3 linked regions of the Homo sapiens genome follow. The protein of the gene in region 2 purifies or fractionates together with the protein of the main gene of each other region. This does not show direct contact. Each region holds a gene or a part of one and is shown on either strand. Other genes may lie near its edges.

What was found. The genes of interacting proteins can lie anywhere in the genome.
Region 1: the proteins of PTPRK (region 2) and PLXNA2 purify together in Homo sapiens (affinity purification with mass spectrometry; 3 studies listed by BioGRID and IntAct, with this or other methods). This does not show direct contact.
Region 3: the proteins of PTPRK (region 2) and CTSF purify together in Homo sapiens (affinity purification with mass spectrometry; 3 studies listed by BioGRID and IntAct, with this or other methods). This does not show direct contact.

The regions. Positions count from the first base shown.
Region 1 is NC_000001.11:208,241,259-208,249,751, forward strand, and holds the start of PLXNA2 (plexin-A2 precursor), read right to left. Parts: upstream 3,127-8,493; 5' UTR 2,385-3,126; intron 1-2,384. UniProt on the Homo sapiens protein: Coreceptor for SEMA3A and SEMA6A. Necessary for signaling by SEMA6A and class 3 semaphorins and subsequent remodeling of the cytoskeleton. Plays a role in axon guidance, invasive growth and cell migration.
Region 2 is NC_000006.12:127,967,303-127,972,138, reverse strand, and holds the end of PTPRK (receptor-type tyrosine-protein phosphatase kappa isoform b precursor), read left to right. Parts: intron 1-1,858; coding exon 1,859-1,912; 3' UTR 1,913-3,354; downstream 3,355-4,836. UniProt on the Homo sapiens protein: Regulation of processes involving cell contact and adhesion such as growth control, tumor invasion, and metastasis. Negative regulator of EGFR signaling pathway. Forms complexes with beta-catenin and gamma-catenin/plakoglobin.
Region 3 is NC_000011.10:66,565,481-66,573,943, forward strand, and holds the start of CTSF (cathepsin F precursor), read right to left. Parts: upstream 3,127-8,463; 5' UTR 3,007-3,126; coding exon 2,794-3,006; exon of another isoform or gene 2,724-2,793; coding exon of another isoform or gene 2,691-2,723; intron 2,603-2,690; coding exon 2,504-2,602; intron 2,183-2,503; coding exon 1,964-2,182; intron 1,842-1,963; coding exon 1,766-1,841; intron 925-1,765; coding exon 811-924; intron 688-810; coding exon 542-687; intron 448-541; coding exon 351-447; intron 272-350; coding exon 191-271; intron 1-190. UniProt on the Homo sapiens protein: Thiol protease which is believed to participate in intracellular degradation and turnover of proteins. Has also been implicated in tumor invasion and metastasis.

The sequences.
Region 1 (8,493 bases), on a different chromosome or scaffold from region 2:
AACAGATGGTGAAGGAACTTTTACATTCACCGCATCTGCAGCTTTTGATGGTCAAGAGAGTTGCAGGGTGAATGTTCCCTGGTGCTCTGAAGACAGGGATAGGTATTCAGACTAGCTCTGAAAGGGGGGCCACCAACCTTGTAATGACATGGTTTTGGGCGATGGACATAAGACACTGCCATACTCTTCATTTAGACTTGGGCTGAAAAGCTAGCCAGCCCCCCTGTCCTGCTCCAGGCTTTGAGGGACCCCTGTCCTTATGCCCTGCCAAAAAGAAGGACCAGCTGGGATTTCCTTGGCAGACTCATGGTCCCTGGATAGAGATCTCCTGGTACTTTACCACTGCTGCTCCTCAGCATCTTCCCTGCACATCGCTCCAAATGTCATTTCCATTTAACTGCTTTGCAAGCCAGTTTGCCCCCATCCTAATGCAATTTGCTGAGGACAGTGAGGGAGCAGAGAGGGTAATCTGCATTGCCCTCCCTTTATCAGCAGGTCCCTGAAGACGATCGGCTGCGGAGTGGAGGGAAATAGCTCCTTTAGGTAATGCTGGTTGGTGGCAGCAGGGGCAAGTTCTGGAATGAGGAGGGGTTGGTGGTGATGCCAGGTGGAAGAAGGGGAATGAAAAACAACCTCGCTATGACAGATTCCACTGTTTCCTTGGTTCCCTACCCTTTCTCTTCACTGCCCCTTCAGCCTCCAGGCCACCACCAAGGAGAGATCCCAGGTAATTAGTTCAAATGGTGCTCCGTGAAGAGAGAGGGAAGTTAATGAATTCTTCTCTTTTCTTGCCTGGAGGTCAGAGGGGAGAGGGCTGCAAGCAACTCTGGGAGCTTTCTGGGGTTATTGCATAAAAGTTGTGCATTTCAGTTAGGAATAGCTGAATTCCTCCAGCCAAGGTTATCTCTTCCTGGGGCTCTGTCAATCAGTAGAAGGCCCCAGAATCCAAAGCCAACCCAGAGGGAAGAGTGAAGTTTCAAGATCTGGGAAAGAAGCCCAGCAAAGGAGGGAGACTGCTATTGTGTGGGGAGAGGGGAGAGCTAAACCTGACTCCTGCTCTCAAAGCCTCCAGCCCAGGCCAGCCAAGATACTCATCTTGGCCTGCCGCTCATAAGCCTTGTCCACTGTGCGCGTGAATGGAAGGAAATGAATGTGCCCCCAAATTTCTGTGGGTTCTTCCAAACTGATGGGCCCCCAAGTGACTGCCTCAAGCTATGACTGGCAGTCCCAGTCCCCTCAAACTGATGCTGCCTTCATGTCCCTTGTGCACTTTCTACTGGTGTGCCACTGTCACTCTAAGATTCCTACAGGGGACCTGTTCAGATTTCCATTGCCCACTTCATGGGGCTCTCATTTCTAGACCCTTACTGACCTAGAGCCCCAAATCTTTTATCCAACTTCCTCCCCACCATTATTTCTATCCCTCCTGAGCAGAGCTGAGTTTGAGTAGGTAGCTCCCACTAGGGCAAGGGTCATTCCAAACAGGTGGACTTTTTTCGGGGATCTAAAATGGTAGTTTCTGGTGACTCTCTGGGCATCTAGACCATGATTGGCATTATAGAGACTACCTGTGGGATGGATAAAAAGGGCTAGAATTTTCTAGGATCCCTACCTCACTTGTGGGGTGGGGCAAGAAAGAGCACATGGAAGGAAACATTCTCAAATGGTTCATAAGGAGCCTCTGGGACCCTAAGCAAACTCCCATTTCAACCCCCAGCACTCCTGTGGTGCTCAAACTAAGGGGCTGGACCCCTGCTGGGCGATACACCGCAAAGGGAGCCCCGGGAGATGAAACACTTAGACCCATTCAGTGCCTAGGAATCTCTCCCTGAGCCTTATGGAACCCGCGCAAATGATGTTTTCCCATTCCCCTGATCTCCAGTCCCCGATCGGAAGGGAGAGCCGGCGGCCACCAGGGACCCCGGCACTGGAGTGAACGCCCCCAAATCGATCGCTGGCCAGTGTGGCTTTGGGCTGTCTCGCTGGTGCCACCGAGGCCCTCTTTGGGCTCCAGCTCTCAGGACAGCCTTGCCGCCCCGAGCTCCCCAAAGCCGCAGAGCGCCGGCAGGTGCGCGGTGGAGGCGCGCCGCGGAGCGCTGCTGCCGCCCTCAGCCCGCATTCGGGAAGCCGGCGGGCTGCCGGCCGGGAAGCCCTCGGCGGGAGGCAGCGGCTCCAGTGAGCCTGCGATCGCGCGCACGCCGCGCTCCAGCCCGCGAAAGTGGCCGAGCCCACGCGGGGACTCGCCCGCCGCGGCCAAGCCGGGTCTTCTGGGGCCGGGACCCCAAAGAGGCGGGCGCGGGAGAAGCCGCCACGGGTGTGCGCGCCTGTGGGGAGAGGGCGGAGGGCGCTGCCGACTCCGAGCGCCCGGCCCAGCCGCCGCTTACCCAGCTCGGCGACGTCGGTCTGTCCTTCCGTCCCCGCTCGGTCTACCTCGGCCGCCGCCGGCTGCTGAGGGCGGCGCGAGGCCCCTCTCCCTGCCCGCAGCTCGGAATCAGGGAGACGACCAAATCCACATGGAGTCCAAATTCATTAAAATCCACGTCAAGCCACCAGACACTTATCTGTATTCCTGAAGTCGCTCCTCGGTCTCCGCTCCGCGCGCCCCTCAGTCCTCCGTCGCCCCGCAGCAGCCCGGCTGGGCGCTGTCGCCGGCTCTCAGGGGGCACCCGGAGGCGCCGAGGGGGCGTGTGGGGGCGGCCGGCGGTGTCTCTCCTGAGGAAGAAGCAGAGCCCCGGCTGTCTTCAGATTTTTCCAGCGCGACTTTCCGGGCTCCTCTGACATCAGCAATCCCGGCGCTTCCTTCCCTTCTTGCTCTCCGGTTCGTTCACAGTCCCATTTCCTCCGGGAGCCTGGCTTTCCAGATCTATTTCGAGGTTTGCTCCGCTGGCTGCGGCGCTCGCACGCCCTACCGCTCCCAAGCTCTCGGGGTCTCTCTCCGGATCGCTCGCCCTCTCGGCTGAAAAATTCCCAGCAACTGCCCTCCGCCGCCCTCCCGCTCCAGTCTGGCGCGGATGCCGCTCCTCCCGGCAGCTCTGGCTCCCGCGGTGGCGGCGGCGGCGGCGGCGGCGGCGGCGGCGGAGGAGCCCTGAGCGCCGGCCTCCCTATTTCACCATGCAGCTCATTATCATAGAGGCCGCGCGCGTTAACCCCCTCCCCGCCGGCCGCGTCCGCCCGGGCTGGGGCCGCGCCCGCTGCTGGCACCGCCCGCCACCGCCAGCACCCTGCCCCCTCCCCCGCCCGCGCGGACTTCCTCCTCCGCAAGCTGTCAACAAAGGAGAAGCAGGTTTGGCATCCGGAGGCCGCTCGGCTGCCTGTCCTGCGCCCAGCTCAGCCCGGACCCATCGGCCACCTTAAGTAGCCAAGGGGGCAAGGAAAATGCTGCCAGGGCCCGGGAATTCGAGTCGGGCCTTGCGAGCCCAGCTGGCTTGGCCCCCGGGGGAATAGAAGGTCTAGCGTTGGGGTTAGGGGGGAGCTCAGAACACAGGAAGAGTGGGTGAGGGCAGTAGGGACAGGGAATCCCCCCCATTCGCATCACCTGTCACCGCACACATCCTGCACACCTCCCTCTTCATCTGTAATTTGAGTGAGGGGTGAGTGGGGAGGAACGGGGCTTGTCTGGTAGGGTTGAGACTAGAGTCTTGGAATTTGTGGGAGCAAATTTCCTCTTCTTGTAAATTAAAAAAAGAAAAAGGCCAACAAGCTGTCAAATAAGGCTTGAAGTTGTTGTTATTATTATTATTGCAATGAGAAGATGAACCTTGCTCTGAATTGAATCTCAAACTTCCAGCCCTGATAGGGATCCTGGGCATCTGGTAAGTCCCGACTTGCATGGGGGCATTGGGGACGGGAGAAGAGCTTTCTATATCCAATTCAGAGAATCTTTCTGGCAGGGTAATCAGAGGGGTGGCAATAAGATAACTTATTTTAATAACCTAAGGTGAGAGGTTTCGGGATTCTGGATGACAATGTCTCGGTGCCCTCAAGGCCACTGATTCCTCGCCACACAGTCTCAGTAACTCCGCAGCCTCTAGACACGGCTTTCCGGAAGCGGCCTGCAAGCTGGACCCCAGCGAGTTCGCAGGATCTGCGTAGTCCCTGCTCGCGATTAGAGCGCACACGAGTTTACTCCTGTCCAAGTATTCTGATAAGCTTCCTCTACTGCCCTCTCGTGGCCACAGTCCTCAGTGGTATAAATCTAAAAAACAACAAAAATCACTGCGAATACCTAAAAGCAATTGCACCAAATTCTTAGAGCAGTAGCGGCAGAAGAAACGAAGGGAGGGAAGGATGAAGAAAGGGAGCCGGAGAAAAGAGAGAGAGAGAGGAAGAAGAAAAGGAAATCTAGACTAACCAGTCATCTCGAACAATCGCACATTCAACACAGGACTGGGGGATCTAGGCTTTACTCCAACATCTGCAGAAATCAGCGAATTCTTCAAAAGTTCTTCATTGTAATTAGCTGAAATTTGTGTTCCTGTAACTTTCACTGGCTACTGCTAGTTTTGTCCTGTGGGACCACAAAGAATCTGTCTAAGCTGTGTTGCCTGATCCATACCTGTTCTTTCCTTCAAACTTCTTTAGCATTCATTGTTGGTAACACACCAATAAATTATCATATTTACCCTGTGTTATTATTTATTTATTTTTATAAGTAGATCTTGTCTCCCCATGCAGACAGACTAGTCGATCGTTTTATCTCTGGGTAGACTGAATCTAAACCACAATTTATTAAAAAAGATGATTTGAAGAAGATGCTAGAAGATTTTGGAACACTTCCTCCATTTGTTCATGGAGTTTGGCCAGCTACACCTAAGACCAGCCGTGGTAGGATTGGAGATATCTAATTGATAAAGCTCCAAGCTGAAAATTAGGGCCCTCTGGTTCTAAATCAAGTGGTGTCTGACTCTGGAAGAGGTCACCTCTCTTCCCTATGCCTCAATTTAATCACACCTTGGGAAGATTATGATACAATTGAAATAATTTTCTCATATGCCACCCTCCACTCCTGTGGTCCAGAAATAAATCTTAGAATGAAGAGCAAGGAAGCATAAAATGAAACAGACTCTTCCACTCACCCCATCTTTTATCCCCACACCTCCCCTCTCTTTCCTGAATAAAGGGAGAGAAAGAGGGAACACAGGCGGGAGGACACATTGTGGCTGACAGGGTGGCACGACGCCATCCAGATTCCACATTGCCACTGAACAGGGTCTAAGATCTGAGTCCTGTGAGACTATGGAAGAGCCTGTGGTCAGCATAGCAATGGAAAGAGCGCTAACTTGATCTACTGGGAGGTACAGTGGATGAAGTACCTCTAACTTCTCTAGGCCACAGTTTGTCCATCTGTAAGATGGGAATTTCTGTCTTCACTCTCCAGACAACTGGGGGAATTAAAATAGATATATGTAAGCGTGTTGGAAGAAGTAATAGTATCATCAAAATGGAAAGATTGTTGTTATATTTAGTCCTAATAGGCTAGAACAAATATGGATCTTATTAGCTAAACATCTAATTACCATAACATGCTCTGAGAATTTAAAAAAAAACCAAAACCTTGGGTTCATGGTTCGTATTTAGATTTGACATCCTCTGAGGCAACAGCGGTATACCTGAACCTCTAGTCTTTACATCTGCTCGTTAACCTTCTCCCTTTGATCTGGGTATTCATTCATTTATTACGCAAATATTTATGAAGAGCAAATTTACTAAATTTCTTCCTTTAATGGAACTATATACAGTCCATAATTACTGCTTTGGCACATATTTTTAAAGAAAGCATGGCAATAACCCTACAGATTCTATAACCTCAGATCTATCTCTTTCTGAGGTTTCTGGTTTTCTTGTATGTTTCTGCCCTTCACTATATTCTTCCTCATTCTGTCCATCTGATATCAGGCCCACAGCCCCTTGGGACTGACCAGTCCTCTGTCAGGGCCTTGTAGTTCGTCCTCATTTCCATCTGGAAGGATAGATGTAGTGCAACATATTTGTGAGCAGGCTGTCGATATTTAACAAATATTTATCAAATGAATGAACAAATGAATGAATGGGGAAATGTTTATCTTATGCCAAATCCTCATCATTGGAAAATCATAGCACACTCAACAGGGTTCTCCACTCACCCCAACCTACCTACCTTCCCTAGTCAAGATATTCCTGGAACCTCACCTTGAAAGTCATTTGTCACTTCTGCATTCTTGTTCCAGGCCCCAGGCCTCTTCTTTGCTTGTCAAAGAAGCAAGCTAAGTAACTAGATGGGTTACTTAAGCAAGAGAATGAGAGAAGTGGGAGAGGACAGGGCACCAACATTCTGGAATGCCACAGAATGTTTCCTGTGAAGAATGAATATTTCTCCTGTGGAAGGCAGGTTTGGCTAAGATGCTGCCACCTGCATTTTCCAGGCTGGGAGCAGGCCTTGGCCCTGGAAAGCAAGCTCTTAGACTTTGGGGAGCACAGGCCCAAATGGGCAACTAGCCCATCCCTAGGGGAAGTCCTTTATGTCACAGCAGCAGCTCCAGCCCCACAAATAGATGCCAGTACAGTAGCCCCTCGGATCACAGGAGGTATTTTTGGTGCTGGAAGCCAGCCACACTTTGGCAGGCTTTCAGCATCAAGTCTGTTCCCTTTAGAGGCGGGGGGTGGCAAGCTATCAGTGTTTAGCATGGGAATGCTGCCTGAGAGTGTGTGCATGCATATATTTACGGTGCCTTGAGTCGGCTGGGAGGTGGGCTCAGGAGGATGTGTGCCTGGACCTGTGCTTGGGAGCCAAGGGTGCTCCTGCTTGCCAGTGTCAGAGGGCAATGTTTGGATGGTGCACTGGCTGTTGCCCGGTTTGTACCTGGCTCCCAAAGCTGAGACCACTGATGCCACCACCAAGTTGATTGGTCTCTGCTCTAAGATGCATGTCATCTTTCACTTGCCCTGAGCCCAGGCTTGCCACTATAGACAGGCAGGAATGTGGTCCCTTCTGTCTCCCTACCAGGTACCTCACCTTCATCCAGCAGATGCTGTCAGGCAACCCCAGCAGCAGAGCAGCCTCCCCTTAACCCCTACATTGTTAGGAACAAAGGGATTGGTCCAGACAGGCCAGCCTGGAGTGTGTGGGCCAAGTCCTGTGAATGGAAGAGAGAGACTGCGGGATGCCAGAGTGGTGGGTCTCAGCCCAGGCAACGGGGCTGGCAGCCCAGGACACAGGAACAGGGCATCTGCTCCGGGGTTCTCAGTACCATTCATAAAGACGTCACCCTTCCCTCCCCTCCCCTCCCCTCTCCTCCCTTCACAAATCCCACTTTCCTGTGTACTTTAAACAGTAGCAAGCCTGTTAAGGCTCCAAATCAAACAAGGCAGGATTTCGCTCCTTTCTCACTAAACCTCCCACGAGCAGAGCTTATGTCCCTGTATACCTCGTCCTCTTTCCCTAACCCTCCCTCCCCTCCTCCATCCATCTAGTGTGTTGCTCTGGGAGAAGAATATTCTCTGTGAAGCCCAGGCAACTGCAGTCCCAAACCTACTTAAATAGGTCCCTGGAACAGTTTGCAAGGCTCTGGCATTTGCAAGGTCAGAAGGCTTCAGAGGAGGGGTGGGGTAGGGGAGTGTGGACAACTGGGCTCCAGGCATGGAAGGTGAAGGCTGAGGCTCAGGACTTATTTTTTTTTTTGCTCTATTCCTAGCACTAAGGGTCAGGAAAAGGGCCTTCCTCTCTTATTTTTTCTAAAAGAATCCCCCCAAAGGAGAAACTAATCATTTGGTCACATAATCCCTGGGTAAATCTCTTGGTGCCTCAGTTTCCTCCTTTATAAAGTGGAATAATGTCCCTTGCATTTCATGTCTTGCAAGATGCTGACTATGAAAGAGCTTCACAAGCCAGAAAGCATTATACAAATCCATGGGAATGTTCTCTTAAAACCTGAAAGTTCCATCCGGAGGCAAACCTATTTCCCAACTGTACAACTGCAGTTCTTCTCTTGGTTGGTTTTCTAGGAAAAACAGCTGGGCTCACCAGAAATATCCCTTTGCTTATGGGGTCATTGTTGTCCATCACCTCGGGGTCCCTCCTTCTCTCCTACTCTTCCACTCAAAAATGCTGCAGAGAAAAAGAGATTCTGTCCACAAACCTTCATCTATGGAATCACAAAGCACACCCAGGCTGGAGTTGGTCCTCATTACTAAGCAGCCCACGTACACACCCACACCCTCCCAGGGAGCAAGAGAAGAGAGGGGCGGCTGAGGTGCCTTGGAGAACACGCTGTGATTGCATAGAAATTAGCATGGTCCCATTCCCTGTGGGCTGAGATGTATTATGTGAATGTGCTTTTGGGGTCCACCCCTGCTCAGCAGCCCTCACTGGCCAGGAATCCCCTGCCTGTTCTGAGTCACTGACCTCCTGTCTTTGCTGCATAGCCTGGTTCAGAGGACAGTTGCTGCCAGAACTACAGTTGGGTTCTAAGGCTTTCTGAGGGCTCAATGTCTTCTGGGCGGGCCTGCCAGGGCTTT
Region 2 (4,836 bases):
TGCTTCCTGAGACAAAATCTGAAGACTTAGGTTTGTACTGTTTCACTTTTACAAGCGGTACCAGACTTCCACCCTTTCTACAGGTGTCCTCAAACTCCCTACACCACCTCATTTCCCTGGGTTGTTGCAGCTGTCTACACAAGATTACATTGGTTTTGATTGGGGTGCTGGCTATGGAGATGAGAAAGGGGGGATGAATCGGAGGGATTTTTGAGGGAGAACTCTCAGATCGTCTTAGCAACTAAATGAATAGTGGTTATGTCTCTAAACTTTGCGATTTGAAGATTTCTTGATGTAAACTCTGCCTCCATTTTTCAGGTCAAGTCTTAAAATCATCAGTGGGATCATTTCTGACTTCAGAATTCAACTTTTACCTTCAAATTTAACTGATTTCCCACCTTTTTTAATTAAAAAAAAAATCTATGGTTAAACTGTGCCATTCTGGGACCTTCCAAAAAGTTACTATTTTCCTTTACATTCATGTCCCGTGAATCCTGAACACCCCACCCTCTGATTTGTGTTTAATCAGTGTTGATGATTAGTTTAGTGAGCTGTGGAGTTGAGCTGAGGAGTTTGGTGAGGAGATTTAGAGTGAAGGCAATATTGCTGGAGACTGCTTAAAGAGACATAACTATTTCTAGGCACATTTTGGTTCCTTGAATGCACTCGCCACAGTGGTAGGTGAATTTGAATCATAACTACTTGGTGAATAGTGTTGGAATGATAAAGACCTCTTAAGGAAAGTTTTATTACCCTAGTTTATTGCTGGAGACACCTCGAACTTCTATTCCAAAATAATATGCATTTTAGACTGTTCTCCAGCCTGAATTTTACCCACTTGAATGAACTGAGTTGGGAATTTTTAAATGAATTGCATATTATAAGTAATAGTTTATGATATGGTCTCTGAATTTTTCTAAATTCTTATTATGGAGCAAGTCCATAGATGGGCTTAGAGGAAAGGCAGTTTTAACTCAAAAATTTTATTGCCAATATGTTGTCTTAAACATATAAAGGCAGCAGAAATACATTTTCAGGTATAAGTAGGCTCAAAATTTAAGGATCACTAACCATTCTTGAAAAATTTGCTTAAATACTCTGATGGACAAAAACAGTGTCAAAAATTAAGAACTTGAAATTGCATAAATGGCTGTTTAAAATGGCTGGCTTTTTTTTTCTCAAGGAAATCATCTGAAATATATGGAGAAAAACATTTGCAGTTTATCACTGTAGCATTATAAAATAGAGAAAAAAATAAAAGCAACTTAATAGTCAAACAATACATATATTTGATTTTTATGTGGTATTAAAAGATGTTAAATAACATGGAAAAAGAATTGTAACAATGTTAAATTTTAAAAGTTACATTTAAAATTATATTTTGAAATATACATAGTTATATTTATTCTAAGATAATTATTTCAACCATGCACAAAAAGAACTGAGGCAAACTAAGGTGATATTTTAACAATTTCTTCTGATGATAGAATTATAGCTCTTTTTCTCATTCTTTATGTTTGTTCAGAATGTGTATATTCTTTATATTTGTACAGAATTGTTCTGTAATGATCAAATATTACTATTATAAACAGATAAAAAATTATAGATATTTAAAAAATTGATAGAAAATATGCGGCAAAGATAAAATGTCTTTTTAAGATAAATTTCCTTTTTCTTAAATGGATCATTAGACTCAAGTATAAAATATGTATGCCTAGATATTAATCTCATATATAGAAAAAATAAATTGTAATCCTTGAGTAATCTAAATTGGTTGTCAAGTTTCATTTGGTAACTGTTATTCAACATTAGTCTCTTTCTTAAGTTTTCTCACTCTTTGTGTTTTGACATCTTTCAGGAGCAATACCGTTTCTGCTATGATGTAGCTTTGGAGTACCTGGAATCATCTTAGTTGGGTGAGACTCTTTAAAGTGCATCCATGAAGAAACCTGTCCATCTATTGAGCCAGCAGCTGTTGTACCTGTTACACTTGTGCAGAAAGATTTTAATGTGGGGGGTGGGAGACTTTTACATTTGAGAGGTAAAAGTATTTTTTTTATGAAGTTGTGTATCTTAATAAAAAGGACTGAATTAGTTTTTATTACTATATTAAAGCATCAACATTTCATGCCACATAAATTATATTTAATAAGAACCAGATTGAAATGAGAACGTATTGGTGTTTGTACAGTGAACATGCCACCTTTTTTCTCATGGTTTCAGTAGAGCAGCTACCACATGTTGCATGAGTTCATACTTTCTACGTGGCATTTTTCTCCCTTTCTAAAATGAAAGCTGATGAATCTTAAAAGGAAGAAGAAAAGAAAAGCTGTGCAAATTCATAGTAAAGTTCGTTTTTTATATGTTTCCAGTGTAGCAGATCTCTATATAAATATATAAATATATATAACTGGCTTATTTTCTTTTAATGTGCAATGATGGCTGGATCATTTAAAGTTCTTTTTAGAAAATAACATAAGCCAAAGACTCAAGTGTAAATATGTCTATATGGAGAAAGCACATTATATTTATTGGTTACTTACATTCCTTTTTTGATGGCTAAAATACTACCACCACACAATCATCTTTTTTTTCCTGAAGAAAGCTTTTTCTTTAGCTAAAATCAATTGTAAACGATTTTTGTAGATTATTTTTTGTATGTTTTAGTGTAAGTAGAAGATAAACTTTTTATTCATAAACCAGGAAGCAATGTTCTTTATAGTGATTCTCTTGTGTACATGCTTGTGAATTAAATTTGTGTAAAATCCCTTGGCAATTGGGTCTTTTAATATAGGACCAAATTAAAACATTTTGCTGAATATGTATAGTTTTTCACAATTTCATTAGGTAAATAATGGTTTGGTGATCATACATGAGAAATGTACACATTAAAAGGCCTTGCTGACAACTTGCACAATGTTGAACATAGCCTTTAAGCATCATTTAAATTTTAAAGGAATGGAGTTTTTCAGCCTGTGGCCCAGCACTGGTCAAGAAAACAAGATGGCAACATATATGCTTTCAGGGTCAAATTTGAGCAAACTGTAAACTGTCAGGGTGATAAAATGTTTCTCTTGATGTTTACATGCACAAGCTTTGCGTTCTGACTATAAAAAGTGTGAACAAATCAATGCCAGATTCCTGTTTTGCGCATTGTCATGGGATTCTTAAGTGAACCTTTCTAAATGTGGTCTTGTTCACATGCTCCACGTAGCTGTAACTTCACATCATCAGCTTGCAGTTTGTAATTGACTAAAGCATTCCAGTGTCCTCTTTCTAGATTGCCAGCTCATGACATGGTGCTTATAAAGATTTAATTAAAGTAAGAATGAAATAAAGTTTTTATAATTATAACAGTTATTGTTTGCACATCATTTTTTCCTCTTAATGTTTATGCATTCACCACTAAATGAGTAGCTTATTCCTATACTCGTTGATACAAGTAGGCCACAAAAACTCTATTTAAAGAGTAAAACTGATTTCCAACCTCTAGTTTCTTTTATTTTTATTTTCTTAATTTAATGCCAAAATGTCCAGTAGGTGGAGATGGAAAAGGCCAGGAGATTGACATCATTTTTTGTTTGTTGGTTTCTATATTTATCCATGTATGTAATACACATTTTCCATTTGTGTTTGTCACTATCCATTTATATAATACACATCTTACTTTTTTCTTATAACCAACATGACAAATGGTACTTATGATCCCTATTTTACAGATGATGAAATGGAAGCTAATGAGAAGGTACATGATTTGTCAACAGATTCATTCCTACTTAGCAGCTATGTCTTTACCACTAAACACATTGTTTCCCAAATGTCACAAAGATAGACAAAAAAATTTAGAATTTCATTTCTATTGTTCCTCATTAATCAATTTTCTCTTAAAGTATTATTATCATAATGGACATCTTCAATCTCCCATTTGCTATGTACTTTATTAGAAAATGCGTGACTTTTTAAAAAATTCAGATAAAGCAAACTTTTCTTAGGAAAGCTGATTTTCATTTAAACATGGAGGCATTTAACAAAAAAAAATCCACAAACTCGCCCAAGATTTTTTTTACCCGGTAATGTTTATTATGTTATCCTATAGAAGATTCTGTTTCACTGTGTGACACTGACTTCATTTCTGCTCATGACTGCACCACACACCAGCAAAGTTATCATGAGCACAACTGTCCACAAAGCTCAGAGGTCTGTGCAGCCTCTGTAATTCAAAGAACAAGAGTTCTCTTTCTTTGTAACAGGAAATTGAAATATCATGCTTGCTTTGTTTGGGCACCACAGAAGCCACTTGATCAGGAGACAATGGAAGAGGGGTTGCCTGTTGCTCTCAAAACTCATATTCAAAAGCTCATATCTTATACCCTTAAGGGCTCCCTAAGTAGTCTTGTGCATGACTATGTTCTCCGACACCCCCAGCCATGTCCCTCTGGGCGGATGTCCTGGTGCTGGCTGGGGGTGGGGTCCTCTTCCACTGGCACAGCTCTACATGCTTTTCATAGTTTAGGGCTTCCTATTCCTAATTTAGTTATTCCTTAAATGGCTGTCATGTCGTTGAATTTTACAGACCCCCTTTCTATAACTATCACTAAGGAGATGTTGGAAGTGTGTGGGCCAGAGACACACCAGCAACTGGGAATTTTTGAGTTTTAAAACCATTCTTGGAAATAAGTGTTATCTCTCTTAGAGTTGTCTCCTAGCCTTTTCTAATACTTAGGCTTTGGAGTCTGTATTAGTCAGGATTCTCTAGAGAGACAGAACTAATAGGATAAATATATAAAGGAGTTTATTAAGTGTTAACTTACATGATCACAAGGTCCCACAATAGGC
Region 3 (8,463 bases), on a different chromosome or scaffold from region 2:
ATCTTCCCAAGTTGGCCTCCCAAAGTGTTGGAATTACAGGCATGAGCCACCACGCCTGGCTGGGTCAGCATTAAGACCTGGACCCAGTTCTGTGTAACTCTCATGCTCATGTCTCCCCCCCATTATGAAGTAACTTCTTGTACAGGGAGAAGTGGCTCCGGTTGCCCCTCCTGACCCCATTAATGCATACCCAAATTCTTTATGGCCGAGTAGGCATTGGAGGGCAAGCCGCCCATGCAGGCCTTGTCCATCTTGTCACAGTCCAAGAGCTCTAGGAGACAGAAGGCTGGTCCCAAGAAGCCCTCCTGAGGGGCTAGGCTGGGGACAGAGGAGTAGAGCGAGATGCTCACCCTGTTCAGAGAGGGAGAGCAGGGTCCCCTGGTTGAGAAACCACTGGCCCTCCACATTGCCTGTGACTGAGAAGGCCCAGCAGGAGCCACACATGCCCTACAAGAGATGGGTGGAGTTGGAGTCAGAGCCGGGCCCCTTCGTCAGCCCCAGTGCAGTGCCCATGTCCCACCCTCACTTCCAGGGGTCCAACCTGGTCTTTGACTTTTGTGACAGCCCCCTTACTCCTCCAGTCCCATTCAGGTGGGGCGAGGTCACCCACAGACTTGGCTTGCTTCATCTTGTTGCCAGGCTCTTTCCTCAGGAGAGTATTCAGGTAGATAGTGCGGAACTCCTCCTCTGCGGGCAAAGGTGGGCAGGGCATGGGGAGGAAGAGTGTTCTAAGCCAGACCTGACCAGAGGCCTTGCGAGCAAGGTCCTGTCTCTTCCTGGATCCATGAGGACTGTGGCCACTATCCCTACCTGTGAGATCACTGAACTTGGTGACTCCATACTGAGCTGTGCCACGGTCCAGGGCCTGGATCTTCTGTGCTCGCACCATGTTATTGACAAAGACGGACAGGCGCCACCGGGCTTCTGAGGACCAAGGAGCAGAAGAGGAGGGGTTCGACCCCAGGCAGATAAAAGGAAGGGCAATTGGGGCTAGCAGGCAGGGGTTTCCCCGGGGAGCAGGTAGGGGTGGGGGCCAGACATGCAAGTGATGGAGTGGGAGGTCTGATCAACTTTTAGGGCCAAACTGAAGTGATGACTTCCCAGGTGCAAAAGCAGTAAATGGGGTCTAAAGGACACCACCCACAAGAGGTGGTGGGGAAAGGCCATGTTGTCAAGGACTCTCCAGCACAAAAAATCCAGCCTCTGCCCCATCCCACCCTGCCAGAGTGATGGAGATGCAGAGCTTCTTTTTTTTTTTTTTGAGACAGAGTTTTCGCTTGTCACCCATGCTGGAGTGCAGTGGCACAATCTTTGCTCACTGCAACCTCCGCCTCCCAGGTTCAAGTGATTTTCCTGCCTCAGCCTCCCGAGTAGCTGGTATACAGGTGTGCGCCACCACACCTGGCTAATTTTTGTACTTTTTTTTTAGTAGAGATGGGGTTTCACCATGTTGGCCAGGCTGGTCTTGAACTCCTGACCTCAGGTAATCTGCCCACCTCGGCCTCCCAAAGTACTGCGATTACAGAGGTGAGCCACCACGCCCGGCCAAGACCCATGGCTTCTGAGCGGGAAGATAAGGTAGGAGAAGGGGCCAGGTACTCAGGGTGGCTGCCAGGCTGGGAAGGCTTAGGGAGAGCTCAGGAATTATGGGGTCCTTGAACAGGTACACTGCCTCTTGTCTTTCTCCTCCCACACACCAAGGTGCCAAGTTGGGGGGAAAGTCCTGTTCTGATAGGAACAGGTACAGCCAAGGCTGGGTCCTCACCTTCCTTTGACTCATATGTCCGGTTATAGGTAATGACAAAGTTCTTGAAGATTGAAGCCATCTTCACAGGCAAGTCCTGGATAGGCAGACCAGTCTTTAGGCTGACCAGAGAAACCCACTCCAGAGGGAAGGGAGAAGGGTGATGAGGCAGCGGCTGGCTCCTCAAGCTGAGGGCTCCTCAAGCTGAGGGCTCCTCACCTGGGACAGGGGATCCTCATTCAACAGGGAAATGACTGAGCTGAAAGTCTCGTTTCTGTTGTCTGGATGGTTTTGGGACAGAGAAGAAATCATGGCTGAGCCCTGAGTGAAGGCTGACTTGGGCTCCCCAGCACCTGGAACCTTGGTGTCCACTGGGCCACAGTCCTTCCGCAGCAGCACGTGTCTTCCGAGCTCATCCAGGACTTGGAAGCTGCAGAGCTGGAGGGAGAGGAAGAAGCTGCTCTGGGGGCCTGGATCTGGATCTGGGGAGCAAGATCTGGCCAAGATGGAGCTGGAGGCTCCTCAGATGAGAGCCACCCCTAAGGCAATCACCCCATCACAGTGGACAGTGAGGCACGGCCTGCACCGGGGCATCCTCCCCTTCATAGCATCTTGGTTTCCAGCCCTCGGGGCCTGGGAAGTGGCTCAAGGTGGGGCAGCAGCTACCTCAGATCCCTGCGTCTTGACCTGACCCGTCATCATCCAACTGCTGCTTTACTCGGCCTCGGGGCGGGGAACCCCAAGAGCCTCATCACTCACCAGGGTTTTCTTGGACACGGGGAGCCGGCACACCATGGGGTCGTTGCAGGGTGGCTCCTCCAGGGTGGCCTCCAGGGAGTACAGCGACCCCTGACCCGCCTGGAGAGAGGAGTAGGTGAGGCGGGCACAGTCGGCCCTTGACGGCGCCCAAGGCCCCGCCCGTGCGGCGCTGCCCATTCCCCATCACCAGAGATCGGTTCGTCCAGCGGGCAGGCCCCATCCCAATGTTAGGTCAAAGCTCCTATCCCTTGGACCCGGGCCTGGCGCCCCCGCCCCCGGCGCGTCCTCACCCGGCGGACGCGGCCGCGCACAAGGCCCAGCACGGCCCGCGTCCCCGCAGCCCGGCCGCGGTTGAACATCTCCAGCGCGAAGCGGGTGGGCGCCAGCAGCTCCGGGGACGGCGGCCCCCAGGCCTGAAAGCTGGCGGCTCGGGGCTGGGCGGGGGCGGCCACTGCGCCCGGGAGCAGCCCCAGCAGCGACAGGAGCTGCAGCCAGGGCGCCATGGCGAGGGCGAAGCCGGCGGCCCGGACCCAACAGACGCTCCACCGACCCACCGGGTACCGAGCCCGCGGCCAGCGGGGCCTGAGTCCTCCCTCCAGCGGGGCGACGGCACGCCGACCAATGGGCGCTGGTTTGCGGCGCCTGCGCGTTCTCTTGTTTACAGGAGGCACGTGGGGCGCGCAGGGTAGGGAGAGCGGGAGGCTGCTGGCCTGAGGCTAAAGCTAGTCACTGACCTCTATCACGTGCTTGTTATATGTTAGGCATGATATGCCAGCTCCTTTTATTCGGCGTAGCAATCTCTGAAGTAGGTGCTATCCCCATCGTACAGTGGAGGAAACGAGGCTTGGAGAGATTAAATGGCGTGGCCGGGCTCTGTGACTCAGCCCTGTAATCCCAGCACTTTAGGAGGCCAAAGCGGGTGGATCACCTGAGGTCAGGAGTTTGAGACCAGTCTGGCACACGTGGTGAAACCCTGTGTCTACTAAAAATACAAAAAAGAGCTGGGCGTGGTGGTGGGCGCCTGTAATCCCAGCTACTTGGGAGGCTGAGCCAGGAGAATCACTTGAACCCAGGAGGCAGAGGTTGCAGTGAGCTCAGATCGTGCCATTGCACTCCAGCCCAGGCGACAAGAGCAAAACTCCGTCTCAAAAAAGAGAGAGAGAGAAATATTAAGTGGCTTGCCAAATATCTGGTAAGGAATTGAGCTAAACTTAAATCCAGGCAGTTGGCTTCTGAGCCTGGGTTTGCAGCTTGATCGCCTCTTTCAGGCCCCTCTTCTCAACAGCGAGATGGCAGGTAATTTTTTGAGTGCTGGCAGCGTCTCAGGCTGTTGTGAGGTTCAAATGCAATCATGCAAGCATTCAGTAGCCACTAAGGCAGGGTGCACAGGGTTGAGACTGTCCCTTGAAGCATTCACCTGCTGTGTTCCAGGGTCTACCAAGGGAAAGCATGCACAGATGCATTACAGGAATAGTGCTGCGTTCTTGGAGCTCACAGTCTAGAGAGAAGAACGACAGATGGGCTGGGTGCAGTGTCTCACGCCTGTAATCCCAGCACTTTGGGAGGCCGAGGCGGGCAGATCACCTGAGCTCAGGAGTTCGAGACCAGTCTGGCCAACGAGGTGAAACCCCGTCACTACTAAAAATATTTTTAGGCCGGGCGCAGTGGCTCACGCCTGTAATCCCAGCACTTTGGGAGGCCAAGGTGGGCGGATCACGAGGTCAGGAGATGGAGACCATCCTGGACAACATGGTGAAACCCTGTCTCTACTAAAAATACAAAAAAATTAGCTGGGCATGGTGGCACGTGCCTGTAATCCCAGCTACTCAGGAGGCTGAGGCAGGAGAATCGCTTGAACCAGGGAGTCAGAGGTTGCAGTGAGCTGAGAGCGCACCATTGCACTCCAGCCTGGTAAGACAGTGAGACTCCATCTCAAAAAAAAAAAAAAATTGAAACTGCCTTTGCAAAATTATGACAGTAAGAGAAATCTGACATGGCTGACTGCATCTTGCTTTCTAGCCTCACAGGCTGGCTGTCTTCACTCATTCCTGGGCATGGGCCAAGGTAACTTTTGGATAAATTTAGCTTATACTTTAAATTAGAATACGCCTTCCTGAAAACTAAACCACCCTTGTAAAACTAATGAAAGGCCACCAAGTTAGGAGGATGAGAGGGGCCTGAATTCTACTAAGATGTAGGCATAGTTAAAGGATTACCAGCCATTGTTCTGGAAGTCACAAGATTTGCAACTTTGCCAGTTACTCCTGTAATTAACATCACTATCATGGAATGTAAGACTGATCTTTTGAGCTATCTCTTCCAGGCTTTTGCATTTGTGACTATGGAATGGCCCCACACTGACGTGTGACTCCACCAGTCCTGTGACCCCTACCCAGAAGCAGACTCAGTGCAGGAGGGCCATTTTCCACACTACTATGATTTCATTCCCAAGCAATCAGTAGCACCCATATCCTAGCCGCCTGCCTACCAAACTATCTTTGAAAAACCCCGACCTCCAAGCCTTCAGTGAGACTGATTGAGTAATAACCCTGTCTCCTGTGTGGCATGGCAGGTCTTGTGTCAGTTAAACTCGTTCTTTTCTGCAATGCTATGGTCTCTGAATTGATTTTGTTTGTGCAGTAGGCAGGAAGAACCCATCTGGGAATTACAAGATCATCTAGTTCAAACCAGAATTGCTACAGCAGCAGAGGTCTAGAGAGACAAAGTGACATTCCAGCTACTCAGACATTAGTGCTGGAGCCAGAGTGGAGCCATCTCAATGCTTCCAGTTGCCAGCTGAGGTCTGAGAGGAGAGGATCTGAGGGATTGCAGCAGATACTAATCTTTCCTTGATTATGCTCTTCCCTCTGTAAATTAAAAATAAAATTCTAATCCCCTCCAACCATCTGAATGGACCCTTCCTCCCAGTCAAAGACATTCCAACGTTAACCTCAACAATGATAATAGTTCAGGCCATAATGGGAAGTGGAAGTTAGGCATGTTTCATTATACTCTCCTCCCTTTGGAATTGAGGCACAACTGACCAGCATTAACATTACAACAGAGATTTTAGGCTGGGCATGGTGGCTCATGCCTATAATCCCAACACTTTGAGAGACAGAGTTGGGAAGATCACTTGAACCCAGGAGTTTGAGACCAGCCTGGGCAACATGGCAAAACCCCATTTCTACGAAAATACAAACGTTAGCCAGGCATAACGGTGTGCGCCTATAGTCTCAGCTACTTGGGAGTCTGAAGTGAGAGGATCTCTTAATCACAGGAGGTTGAGGTTGCAGTGAACCATAATTATGCCACTGCACTACAGCGTGAGTGACAGGGCAAGACCCTGTTTCAAAAAAAACAAAAAAAAAGGGCCGGACGCAGTGGCTCACGCCTGTAATCCCAACACTTTGGGAGGCCGAGGCAGGTGGATCACGAGGCCAGGAGATGGAGACCATCCTGGCTAACACGGTAAAACCCCATCTCTACTAAAAATACAAAAAATTAGCCGGGCGTGGTGGCAGGCGCCTGCAGTCCCAGCTACTCGGGAGGCTGAGGCAGGAGAATGGCGTGAACCTGGGAGGCGGAGCTTGCAATGAGCCGAGATTGCGCCACTGCACTCCAGCCTGGGTGACAGAGCAAGACTCTGTCTCCAAAAAAAAAAAAAAAAAAAAAGCCAGAGATCTTAAGACTTTTTTGCAGTACATTCAAGAATGTAGCAATAAGACATCAAATTCGGCTGGGCGCGGTGGCTCATGCCTGTAATCCCAGCACTTTGGGAGGCCAAGGCAGGCGGATCACCTGAAGTCAGGAGTTCGAGACCAGCCTGGCCAACATGGTGAAACCCTGTCTCTAATAAAAATACAAAAATTGGCCGGGCGTGGTGGCACAAGCCTGTAATCCCAGACACTCAGGAGGCTGAGGCAGGAGAATTGCTTGAATCCAAGACGTGGAAGGTTGCAGTGAGCCGAGATTGCGCCACTGCACTCTAGCCTGAGCAACAGAGTGAGACTCCATCTCAAAAAAAAAAAAAAATTAGTGGGTCATGGTGGTACATGCCTGTAGTCCCAGCTACTCAGGAGGCTGAGGCAGGAGAATCACCTGAACCCAGGAGGCGGAGGTTACAGTGAGCCGAGATTGCGCCATTGCACTCTAACCTGGGTGACAAGAGCAAAACTCCATCTACAAAAAAAAATAAAATAAAATAAAATACAAAAATTAGCGAGGCATGGTGGTGCGTGCCTGTAACCCCAGCTATTCAGGAGGCTGAGGCTTGAATCTGGGAGGCGGAGGTTGCAGTAAGCTGGGATCGCAGCACTGCACTCCAGCTTGGGCGACAGAGTGAGACTCTGTCTCAAAAAAAAAAGACACTATCCTGACTTTAGTATCACATGATAGATATTGATGTATTTTACCCTAAAATATACTTATTTGACATACTTTGAAATGGCCCTGCAAAGCTGTCCCTGTGGGGAAAATCTACATTCTCCAGAGTCCCTTTCCATTTCTAGGTCTTTTTCCTGATCCAGGAGAGACTTCACTAAGAATTTGGCTTTTTTTTTTTTTTTTTTTGAGACAGAGTCTTGCTCTGTTACCCAGGCTGGAGTGTAATTGTGTGATCTCAGCTTACTGCAACCTCCGCCTCCTGGGTTCAAGCGATTGTCCTGCCTCTGCCTCCTGAGTAGCTGGGATTACAGGCACTTGCCACCATGCCCGGCTAATTTTTTGTATTTTCAGTAAAGACAGGGTTTCACTGTGTTGGCCAGGCTGGTCTCAAACTCCTAACCCTGTGATCTGCCTACCTCAGCCTCCCAAAGTGCTGGGATTACAAGTGGGAGCCACTGTGCCCAGCCGAATCTGGCATCTTACATATGTATGTATGTATGTACGTATGTATTTATTTTTGAGACAGAGTTTCACTCTTGTTGCCCAGGCTGGAGTGCAATGGCGCCATCTCAGCTCACTGCAACCTCCGCCTCCTGGGTTCAAGCGATTCTCCTGCCTCAGTCTCCCTAGTAGTTCCTGCCTCAGCCTCCCTCGTAGCTGGGATTACAGGCATGTGCCAGCACACCCAGCTAATTTTTGTATTTTTAGTAGAGATGGAGTTTCACCATGTTGGTCAGGCTGGTTTTGAACTCCTGACCTCGGGTGATCCACCCACTTCGGCTTTCCGGCCTCCCAAAGTGCTGGAATTATAGGCATGAGCTACCATGCCTGGCCTCTGGCATCTTTTTAAATTTGATAAGAAACATTTACAATCTATTATCTCTGAAGCTTGCTACCTGTAGGCTTCATCTGCATAATAATGTTACAGTCCGCCGGCGGGGTGGCTCATGCCTGTAATCCCAGCACTTTGGGAGGCCAAGGCGGGCGGATCACAAGGTCAGGAGATTGAGACCATTCTGGCTAACAAGGTGAAACCCCGTCTCTACTAAAAATACAAAAAATTAGCTGGGCATGGTGGTGGGCACCTGAAGTCCCACCTACTCGGGAGGCTGAGGCAGGAGAATGGCACGAACCCAGAAGGCGGAGCTTGCAGTGAGCTGAGATCGTGCCACTGCACTCCAGCCTGGGTGACAGAGCAAGACTCTGTCTCAAAAAAAAAAAGGTCTGTGTCAGGCCTCTGAGCCCAAGCCAAGCCATCACATCCCCTGTGATTTGCACGTATACGCCCAGATGGCCTGAAATAACTGAAGAATCACAAAAGAAGTGAATATGCCCTGCCCCGCCTTAACTGATGACATTCCACCACAAAAGAAGTGAAAATGGCCAGTCCTTGCCTTAACTGATGACATTACCTTGTGAAAGTCCTTTTCCTGGCTCATCCTGGCTCAAAAAGCTCCCCCACTGAGCATCTTGCAACCCCCACTCTGCCCGCCAGAGAACAACTCCCCTTTGACTGTAATTTTCCTTTATCTACCCAAATCCTATAAAACGGCCCCACCCTTATCTCCCTTCTC